Regions from separate parts of the Homo sapiens genome. Here region 2 is linked to region 1. The links come from fine-mapping of genetic effects on gene expression. A gene starts in region 1. The other region holds a variant in brackets. All regions are shown on one strand. Distances are from middle to middle. Region 1 holds the start of C1QTNF3 (C1q and TNF related 3). Region 2 overlaps C1QTNF3 (C1q and TNF related 3).

Evidence for each region. PIP is the estimated chance that this variant, and not a neighbour inherited with it, causes the effect.
Region 2: its variant is the best candidate, but not a certain one, in a credible set for the expression of C1QTNF3 in whole blood (TOPMed, PIP 0.50).

The regions. Positions count from the first base shown.
Region 1 is chr5:34,041,393-34,045,790 of GRCh38, forward strand. It overlaps C1QTNF3 (C1q and TNF related 3), which reads right to left and starts at 1,821. Exons shown (of 6, transcript NM_181435.6): 1 at 1,431-1,821. The coding sequence starts at 1,733. The region is part of intron 1 of C1QTNF3-AMACR (C1QTNF3-AMACR readthrough (NMD candidate)); the gene reads right to left.
Region 2 is chr5:34,017,815-34,022,212 of GRCh38, forward strand. It overlaps C1QTNF3 (C1q and TNF related 3), which reads right to left. Exons shown (of 6, transcript NM_181435.6): 6 at 44-2,928. The coding sequence ends at 2,769. C1QTNF3-AMACR (C1QTNF3-AMACR readthrough (NMD candidate)) reads right to left here. Exons shown (of 9, transcript NR_037951.1): 6 at 2,773-2,928. Among named protein-coding and RNA genes, the nearest start is that of AMACR, 12 kb to the left of the region's middle. The variant C/G (reference allele first, on the strand shown) is at 2,111.

The sequences.
Region 1 (4,398 bases):
AAAGACAACCTTTAACTTCCTTCTGCTTCCTCTGGGGGAATCACACTGTCATGGCCAGGAAAGATACCATCTGTTGGCCAAGAAGGATACCATGTGTGAAATGGAAAGTCCAGATCAAGTCTTGGACACAAGTGAAAATATCTTCACCACAAAACAAAAACAAACAAAAACCCACACACAAATTAGTGCTAATCATTACCCTTTAGCCAAAAGATTATCAGATGAATAGACAATCTCTAAAAGTGGTTTTCAAAAGATAGGATCATATTTAGAGATTATCATTTCTTCCGTGGCTCCTTAAAGAAGCAATTTTCTCTGGATGCATCCCCCACAGAATGGTTTGGGCAACTGCCTTGTGTGGTCAAGTTAGAAGTTCTGGGTTAGTTTCAAATCTGCAATTGATTCTGTGTGTGATCTTGGTCTGACCATATAACCAAACAACCAACCCAAACTTCTGAATCCATGGTAGGAAGGATTTAGATTTCAATTACAAGAAATTCTTCAGGTCCTATTTAATGCATTAAAGTAATCAAATCTTGTAGTAAAAACCTGTATGTTCAAATATCATATAACTCAAAGTAACTCTTCTTGCCCCCTCTGACAGTTTTCAGCATACTAGATGTCTAGAGGGTAATTCAAAATATGTCTCTTCCTGTACTTAATATTTTAAATTACATTGAGTTTCACCAATTTGCAATTCACTATACTGAAATCTTAACTCACTCTCATACTACCAAGAGTTAAAGATATTTCCTTAGAGCTGAATTTATAACCTGAGAAATAGATCAAGTCCTCTGTGATTATCAGGCATCAAATCATGCTATAAGGTATGCATTTCAAACAGTTTATTTTTTATTTAACTCTTTAATTCTTTTTAAAACAGGCTGAACAGAGAGGCTTAACAATCTAGAATGCTATAAATCAAATAAACAAGACTGCCATGAAATGTCACAGTATACTCACAAATCAAAGTAAAAAAACTTTGATTGCTTTTGACAAACTCAAAGGGCAGCTTCTCCCTGCCGGAAGGGATGAAGAAAGCCCAATTCTCTTAAGAACAACAAATGATTGTCTACAGTGACCGATCTGTCTGCATGGGTCAGCACTCCTTTCCGGACCAACAGAGCAAGAAGGAAATCAAGTCCCAGCATAGCAGGAAGCTGGCTGGCCAGGTTCCCCTTTCTGATGGGGTGATGCTACGGCCACTATCCCATCACATCATTGCTGCCTCTGCTGATTTTCTAACAGAGACCGACAGTCTCTCTTGTACCCAAGAGCAATCCAGAAAGAGATTCACAAGCAGCTTAGCGAACTTCTCGAAAGCATTCATTGATTCTAAGAATCTTAGCCAAAAAAAGAACAACAACAAAACAACAACAACAACACTCATTAAGCTTTCACAAAAATCCTTAGAAGAGAATTCTGAGTACCTGGCCCCAGAATGTGGTGATCTGGGCTAGGTCATCTACCTCGGGGTGCGGTAGCTCATCTGGTCTCAGGGATTTTAGGTCTGTAGAAGTGTTATTATCCACAGTCCCAGTTTTAGGATGGCTCCGCTCTCTCACTTTCTCCCTCCTGGAGCCGCTACGGCCAGTCTGCTGGTGGCTTTGCACTATTCTTGCCACCACTTTATTAGTTCTTCCGCTCACCTCCATGTATTCATCTTGACACAGGCAAAAAGGGAGGAAAAACAAAGCCAGCAGTTGCCAATAGATGAGCTGCCTCCAAAGCATGATTCTCAACAGAGCCTCAGAGTCTCCCTGAGAAGACAGCAGAGCTCCAGGAGCGTGGTCTCCTCGGGCAGATGCCAGGACTGGAGCTGAGAGCTGCAGCGGCGGAGTGGTTTTATACTTTGGTGTGTAATAAATAAGGCTGTAGGCATGCCAGAGTGACAGCAGCCCTCCTCCCCAGGCAGAACAGCCCCCATTCATCATTTTCCCACACCACAAGCAAGAACGATTTGTGTGCACAGTTCCCAGTTGGCGAAATTCATAAATGTCACACCTTGGCACGTTTCTGTTGAAGTGTGAAGAAAACATACACAACCAGCTGGGAACAGAGAGCATGTGTCCAGCAGTTTGCTTTTGTGATTAGACATGGAAAGGCTGTGTATTTGCAGTCTAAAAAGCCTTTTGGAAAAATCTACCCTTGTGCTTGCCAGGAAATTCAGGCTTAACTGCATCAGTTTTGTCTGAAATAGCAGTGGGAACCCATTCAGGGCTTTCACGACAGCTCTTGGTTTCTAGCTGTACTGTTAGTATTTCCCCACTTTGGCCCACTTAAGGTAACTCATTTCCCCTTCCGGATACCAGTGGCAGAAGGCAGTTGGTTGCCTACAAAACACTGAGCAGGATTCAGGTGCAGTGTCTCTGGGTTTAGCAAAGGTATTTCGCCACCCTCAGCTTTACTTCTTTTCCCCATGACTTCCCAAAAGCCAAAATTAAATCAAAGTTAACTAAGTCACTTATTGTCAGATGAAGATACAACACCCTGCTTTGTGTTAAGAGAAGGCTGTCTCTGGCTCCTCTTTCTTTTGACATATTCTTGATTAAAATAGAAACGGGGCCGGGCACAGTGGCTCATGCCTGTAATCCCAGCACCTTGAGAGCCCAAGACAGGTAGATCCCTTGAGCCCAGAAATTCGAGGCCAGCCTGGGCAACTTAGTGAGACCCTGTCTCTACTTAAAAAATAAATAAATAACAAAACTGAAGAAGTGGAAAGCACCAAACACGTTATTTCAAACACAGCGTATCCAGATTAAGAGGATTCTCATGTCTTTGCTTTAGTTGCTATACTTTTATTAATTCAGCCAAAAAGAAAATGGACATTCCTAATTGCTTCAGGATAATAAATTAAGAGAATTTAAACAGTTTTGTCATCAAAAATTGCTTCTATTTACATATGATTTTATTTATATTACTCATTCACTCGCTTAAGAAAATGTTACTGGCCTTCTCTCATGAAAACTGGAGAGACCCAGGACCGTAAATAGCATGGGTGGCAAGCGTCTGATGAGAAGGGGGCGAGGAGGCACTGTGGGAAACTGAGGCTTGGAGAAGCTCAGCCTGCTGATGAAGAGTCAGAGCAGCTGGGGAAAGGGGAGAGGAGAGAGAGCTGTTGACAGCTGCCCCCATTGCTCAGCCAAGGGCCTGAGAACCAAGAGCCATCTCTGGAAGTGGCCAGAACTGTCAAAACTAGCCTGGCCCCTCCTGCAGCTACCAGAACAGCCGCTTCCAGAGTCCACACTTATACATGGAAAGGGTTTGGTGCTGGGGACGGAGGGAGAGAGTTACTCTGTGAACTAAAAGCTCTCCAGGCCACAGTTCAGGGGCCTTGGGAGTCATGTTCAGTCCAAGCAGTCAGTTCCCACCTAGTAGGGCATAAAAATTCAGCCATCTCTGTGCTACAAGTCTACCCTTGAGCATCTAAACCTTCCTCACTGGAGGATTCCTTGAGTTCTGTCATGTCCACCATTAAAAGGTAGATGTCCCTGGGAAGGGAAGTGTGTCAAACTGTTATTCTTAGTAACTGAGGATTTTCTTCCCAGACCTGGAGCTGGAGCTGGGGAAAGGATGGCGCCTGTGTTTGGAGGGTGAGCAAGTGGATGGGCTTTTGCTGTGGGAAGGAAAGCCCAGAGCAGTGTCTCAGTGGGGGTGTTCCCTCCTCAGGGAGGCCCAGAGAAAATGTCACAGGGAGACCACAAAGCAAGCAGTGGCTCTGAAATCTAGGTCACCCAATTCACAGGTTTTCCAAGAGCTGTCTCTGGCTCTCACCATCATGCATCCCCCACGAAGTGGGCCATACTGCTAAGTAACTATAAATCAGCCTCTGACTTTCTACCGCATTGAGACTTTCCATTCGTGTTTTCAATCCTGTCATCTATTCTAGTGGTTCTCAACCCTGGCTGCATATTAAACCAAGGAGCTTCTAAAAATATTAATGCCTGGACTCTATCCCAGACCAATTGAGTCAGAATCTGTACTGGGGCCTGGGCAGTTTTTAAAAGCTTCCCTCAGATGATTCTAAGGTGCATCCAGGGTTAGGAATCACTGATCCATCCTCTCATTGACTCAAAAGGAATAAATAATAATATCCATAATTTGTTAAGCACTTACCATGTGCTAGCCAAGTACTACTTTGCTTTATCTCACTGACTTCTGTTGGCAAACCTATGATCCCATCTTATAGATGAGGTGATAGAAGCTTGCAGAGGTAAAGTGACTTGTCTTGTGTTATGCAGCTGGAAAGAACTGGACTCCATCTGTCTTTCCAGAGTGAGTTCTCCTGCCTTGCTATAGAGAAAGATCTACAGAGAAGGATTCTGCAAAGAAGGATCTCTCCTTCTCTCTGCCATTGGCCCATTATTGATCTCTCCCAAGAAATCAATAATGGGTCAA
Region 2 (4,398 bases), 24 kb before region 1:
TACCAAATAATCTCACTTCTGGAAATTTAATCAAAGGAAATAATTATATGCACACATAGTTTATTTTTTTAAAAAGAGAATGCTCATGACATATTATTTGTAATAAAAAAAAAATAATATTTTCCAAAACAGGAAAGTTAAATAAATTATGCAGTCATTAAAATTATGTTTTCAAATTGTCCTTAGTAGCATTTGAGAGTGTTCTTAATATGTTTAGTCCAACCCATTAGAGCAAGATACAAAAATATATAAAAAGCTAATTTCAAATTATTTTATTACTATATTTAAAAATAAAAGCCATAAATACATGCAGGAAAAGACTGAAATAAACACTTTAAAATAGTAATATTATTTAATATTTGATGGGATGATTAATTTTATACTAAATATTTTGGGGAATTTTATAAATTTTCTATAGTGAGTTTTTTAAATAAAAATATATATATTTAAATATAACACTTCAAACATACCAAAGCAAGAAATTGTCTCTGGCCATCAGATATTATCTTTTCCACAAGCTTTTCTTATGCTCTCAGCTAGATACTGTTTCTCTCTCCTGTGAATTCCTAGCCCTTTGCCTTCTATGGCTGTAAAAACATTCTACTTTATGTTTTGTTATCCATGTACTTATTCCCTTTAGCCTATTGTCCTCTACTAGGTTGAAAAATTAGGGAAGGTAAGAATTGTACTTTAAATGCCATAGGAGTGCCTGGAATAGCACAGTATCTTGCATAAAGTAAATGTTTATGAATTCCAGCCACATCATTTGGAGTTTACATTTGCATATTCCATCCTCTGAATTATTTTTTTACATTTTAATTTTGACTTCAGCTTTTATTCATGATACAATCAATAAAATTCCTTCAATATAATCTCTTTGTTGTCCAAGGGTCAAATATAATGTTTTCTACACTGGAAAATTACCAAGGCTGATCATTATGTGAAACAGTTCTACACCATATTACATCCCTGAAGCAAGCAGAAACTCAAGTGCTTCGTTTGCAGAGTTGTTTTAAGATTTAGAATTTGCGGCTGGGTGCGGGGGCTCACGCCTGTAATCCCAGCACTTTGGAAGACCGAGGCAGGCAGATCACCTGAGGTCAGGAGTTCCAGACCGGCCTGGTCAACATGGTGAAACCCCATCTCTATTAGAAACATTAAAAATTAGCTGGTCCTGGTGGTGGGCGCCTGTAGTCCCAGCTACTCAGGAGGCTGAGGTAGGAGAGTCACTTGAACCCAGGAGGCGGAGGCTGCGGTGAGCTGAGATCATGCCACTGCACTCCAGCCTGGGCAGCAGCGTGAAACTGTCTCAAAAAAAAAAAAGATTTAGAATTTGCAAGTTTGTTTATTAGATGGTACATGTAAATTTCCTATGACACCTACCTACTGTTTCCTTTTTAGCATCTCAGTTTTGGGACACTTGTGAAATCAGTCTTCCAAGTATATTTCTGGTCATGGGTAAATTGTGAAGGCATTGGAAATTATCTGCACCTTTTCCCATCTCTGTTGTGAATCAATTTCCCACACACCTGGGACTTGTTGCCTACAACCAAACCTTGTGTGTCACTAAGGTGAAAACTTAGAATTTAAGCATGAACATTACAAAGACTTAAGGTATGTGATAAAAAACCTCTTTCCTTACAGGTATTCAGATTTTATTTGTGAGCCCTCTAAACATCAATGTCTTAAAGGGTTGACATTATAACAATGGAATAACTGAAAAGCGAAGTTTTCTGAAGTCATATGACCCTGCTGTGTGCCCAAGTCACCTATTCACATGGCTGTTCACATCATCTGCATGAAAATATTTTCACTTTCTGTTAACCATAGTGATTTACAATTCTATGACTATTAAAGTTTATTAAACACAAGTTTAGAAAGTATCTTTAACAAAGGTGTGTTTATTTCCATATATTGCTCATTACATTTTTCTTGCCACAGTTTTATCTAAAGCCAGGTCAAAATCTTTCTCTAAGGTATTTATTAATAGTGTATGTTCTTCAGATATAAAATCCCTCTGGTCAACATGCAACATTTGAATATCTATTGGCACTGTACCTCTATGAGATATTTATGACATTTGTTAATAGTGAACCTCAACCTCCTGACC[C/G]CACATCCGAAGTTGGGGGCGATGTGGGGGAACATACACAAAATTACAACCACATTACTGGTCAAGCACTTTATAGCTAAAATCTATTGACTTTAAAATAGCATTGTATGTGAATTCAGAGTTTTAATGTATTTTGTGGATCAAAAGGAAAGGGTCAAAGGCTAAGCTGAACACGGAGGGCACTAAATTAGCTAATAAGGCAGCTAGTGCCCCTGTTCTTGCCCCAGCCCTGTCATATCACTACATCCGATTCTCTCAAATGTTATAAAGAATAATGAACTTAAAACTTCAGGGGTTCCTGAAAACTGGTATTAAATTAAAAGCAGAGTAGTCAAAATTCTTTGCAAATGACTTCTGTGATAGAAAAAAATATTTCCAACCTGCGTCAGAGGAGAATTATCTTTTAGGTGCCAAGGAAAGAGTGATAAAGATGCTGAGTATATTAGTCAAGGTCATCTGAGAAGACTATTTTGTGGTTGATTCTTCTGAGCCCCTGAATTGTCCAACATTATTGGTGTACCTGTAGCGTGAACAACATTGCAACCAATAATTTTTTGAATACAGCAATGTAAAACCCTCAACTTTAATGTTCCTCAGATCGTAACAAATCAGCTCAGCTACAAGTCTTCCCCAAAGTGGAGCTATTCTAGTCATATATTTACTTAGTTTCAAAGAGCAGGAATCCTGCAAAGGTGGAGAAGCGTTGGTGGTCCCCATGGAGAGCGCCATTGCCCATTCGCAGCCAAACCTCATCCCCTTTGGCTAGCTTCAGCACAGCATGATTGCTGGATGTATCTGATTTGCCCTTCATTTCATAGCTGGAAAGAAAAAGAGGAACAAACTACTTAGTTTTTGCCATGAACAACCAGCTCTTCACCAAAGTCTGTGCTCCCCTTCTCTCCTTCCCACAGGTATAATCCTGCGGCTAAGTTCTCTAAACAGCCTGTGAGCAGAAATGACCTATGTACCACTTCTAAAGCTGGCTAGTAACACTCTCACAAAACCCCTCCCTGCTCCTTCTTATGACTGTCTGGAATGTTCATGACAATGACCAGAATGATCTTAGAAGCCATATGTTGAATACTGGGTTCTTGGAGACCATGTGGAAAAGAGCTCTCTCTCTTCTCTGCTCCAACCTGGAACAACCTTGGGCTGTTTGATGAGAAGGAAAGAAAGTTATATTATGTTTGAGCTATTCCACTGGGTTTTTGTTACAGTAATTTAGCTTCCCCTAACCAAGCTAGAATTTGGTACAAAAGGAGGCTGCTCCGCAACCCAAATAAAAATAGGCTTGCACTGGCTCATGGTCAGGCAAGGAGCAATGGGGAAACAAATATCATGGTCTGGGAAAGCAGAAGATCCATGTTACACTGTGCAAAAACATTTGGAAAATGTGATAACTTGGAAGACAGATCTAATGCCTGTAGGGTAAGAAAGGGAAGTGACTGGAAAAAGCCAAAGTACTCTTTGCTGCTTTTAGAAAGATGTTGCTACCAAAGATGAGTTAGGCAAAAACTGACTTGTTTGAAGAAAAGGAAGTAAATAATGTCTACGTGATTAGGGCCTAACAAGGTTAAAAAAGCCAGGTGTCTTTATATCTGGAAGAGCAGTGATAAAGTTGATGTTTTTTCCTTAAGACTACTCATTCAGCAGCCATAAAAAAGAATGAGTTCATGCCCTTTGCAGGGACATGCATGAAGCTGTAAGTCATCATTCTCAGCAAACTAACAAACACAGGAACAGAAAACCAAACACCGCATATTCTCACTCATAAGTGGGAGTTGAACAATGAGAACACATGGACACATGGAGGGGAACATCACACACCAGGACCTGTGGCAGGGTGAGGGGAAAGGGGAGGGAGAGCATTAGGACAAATAACTAACACATGCAGGGTTTGAAACCTAGATGATGAGTTGATAGGTGCAGCAAACCACCATGGCACATGTATACCTGTGTAACAAACCTGCACATTCTGCACATGTATCCTGGAACTTAAAGTAAAATCATAATAAAAAAAGACTACTCATTCAATCAAGTAGACACAGCTGTGGCACAATCTGATGGATTAAAAATATTGCCTTTCTGCCCAAATCGATTGCTTTAGAAGGCCTCAGGGTAACTCCATTAACTTGAGAGAAAGGCATGAAGACAAGGAATAGCAGGCTGAAAACTGTCAAGAAAAGTATATGGAGTGTGGTTTAGTAACACATGTAACTGACTTCACTTAATCTATTTAACAAATGAAGTAAAAGCCAGCTAAGTAAATAGAGTAAAATCGAGTAAAA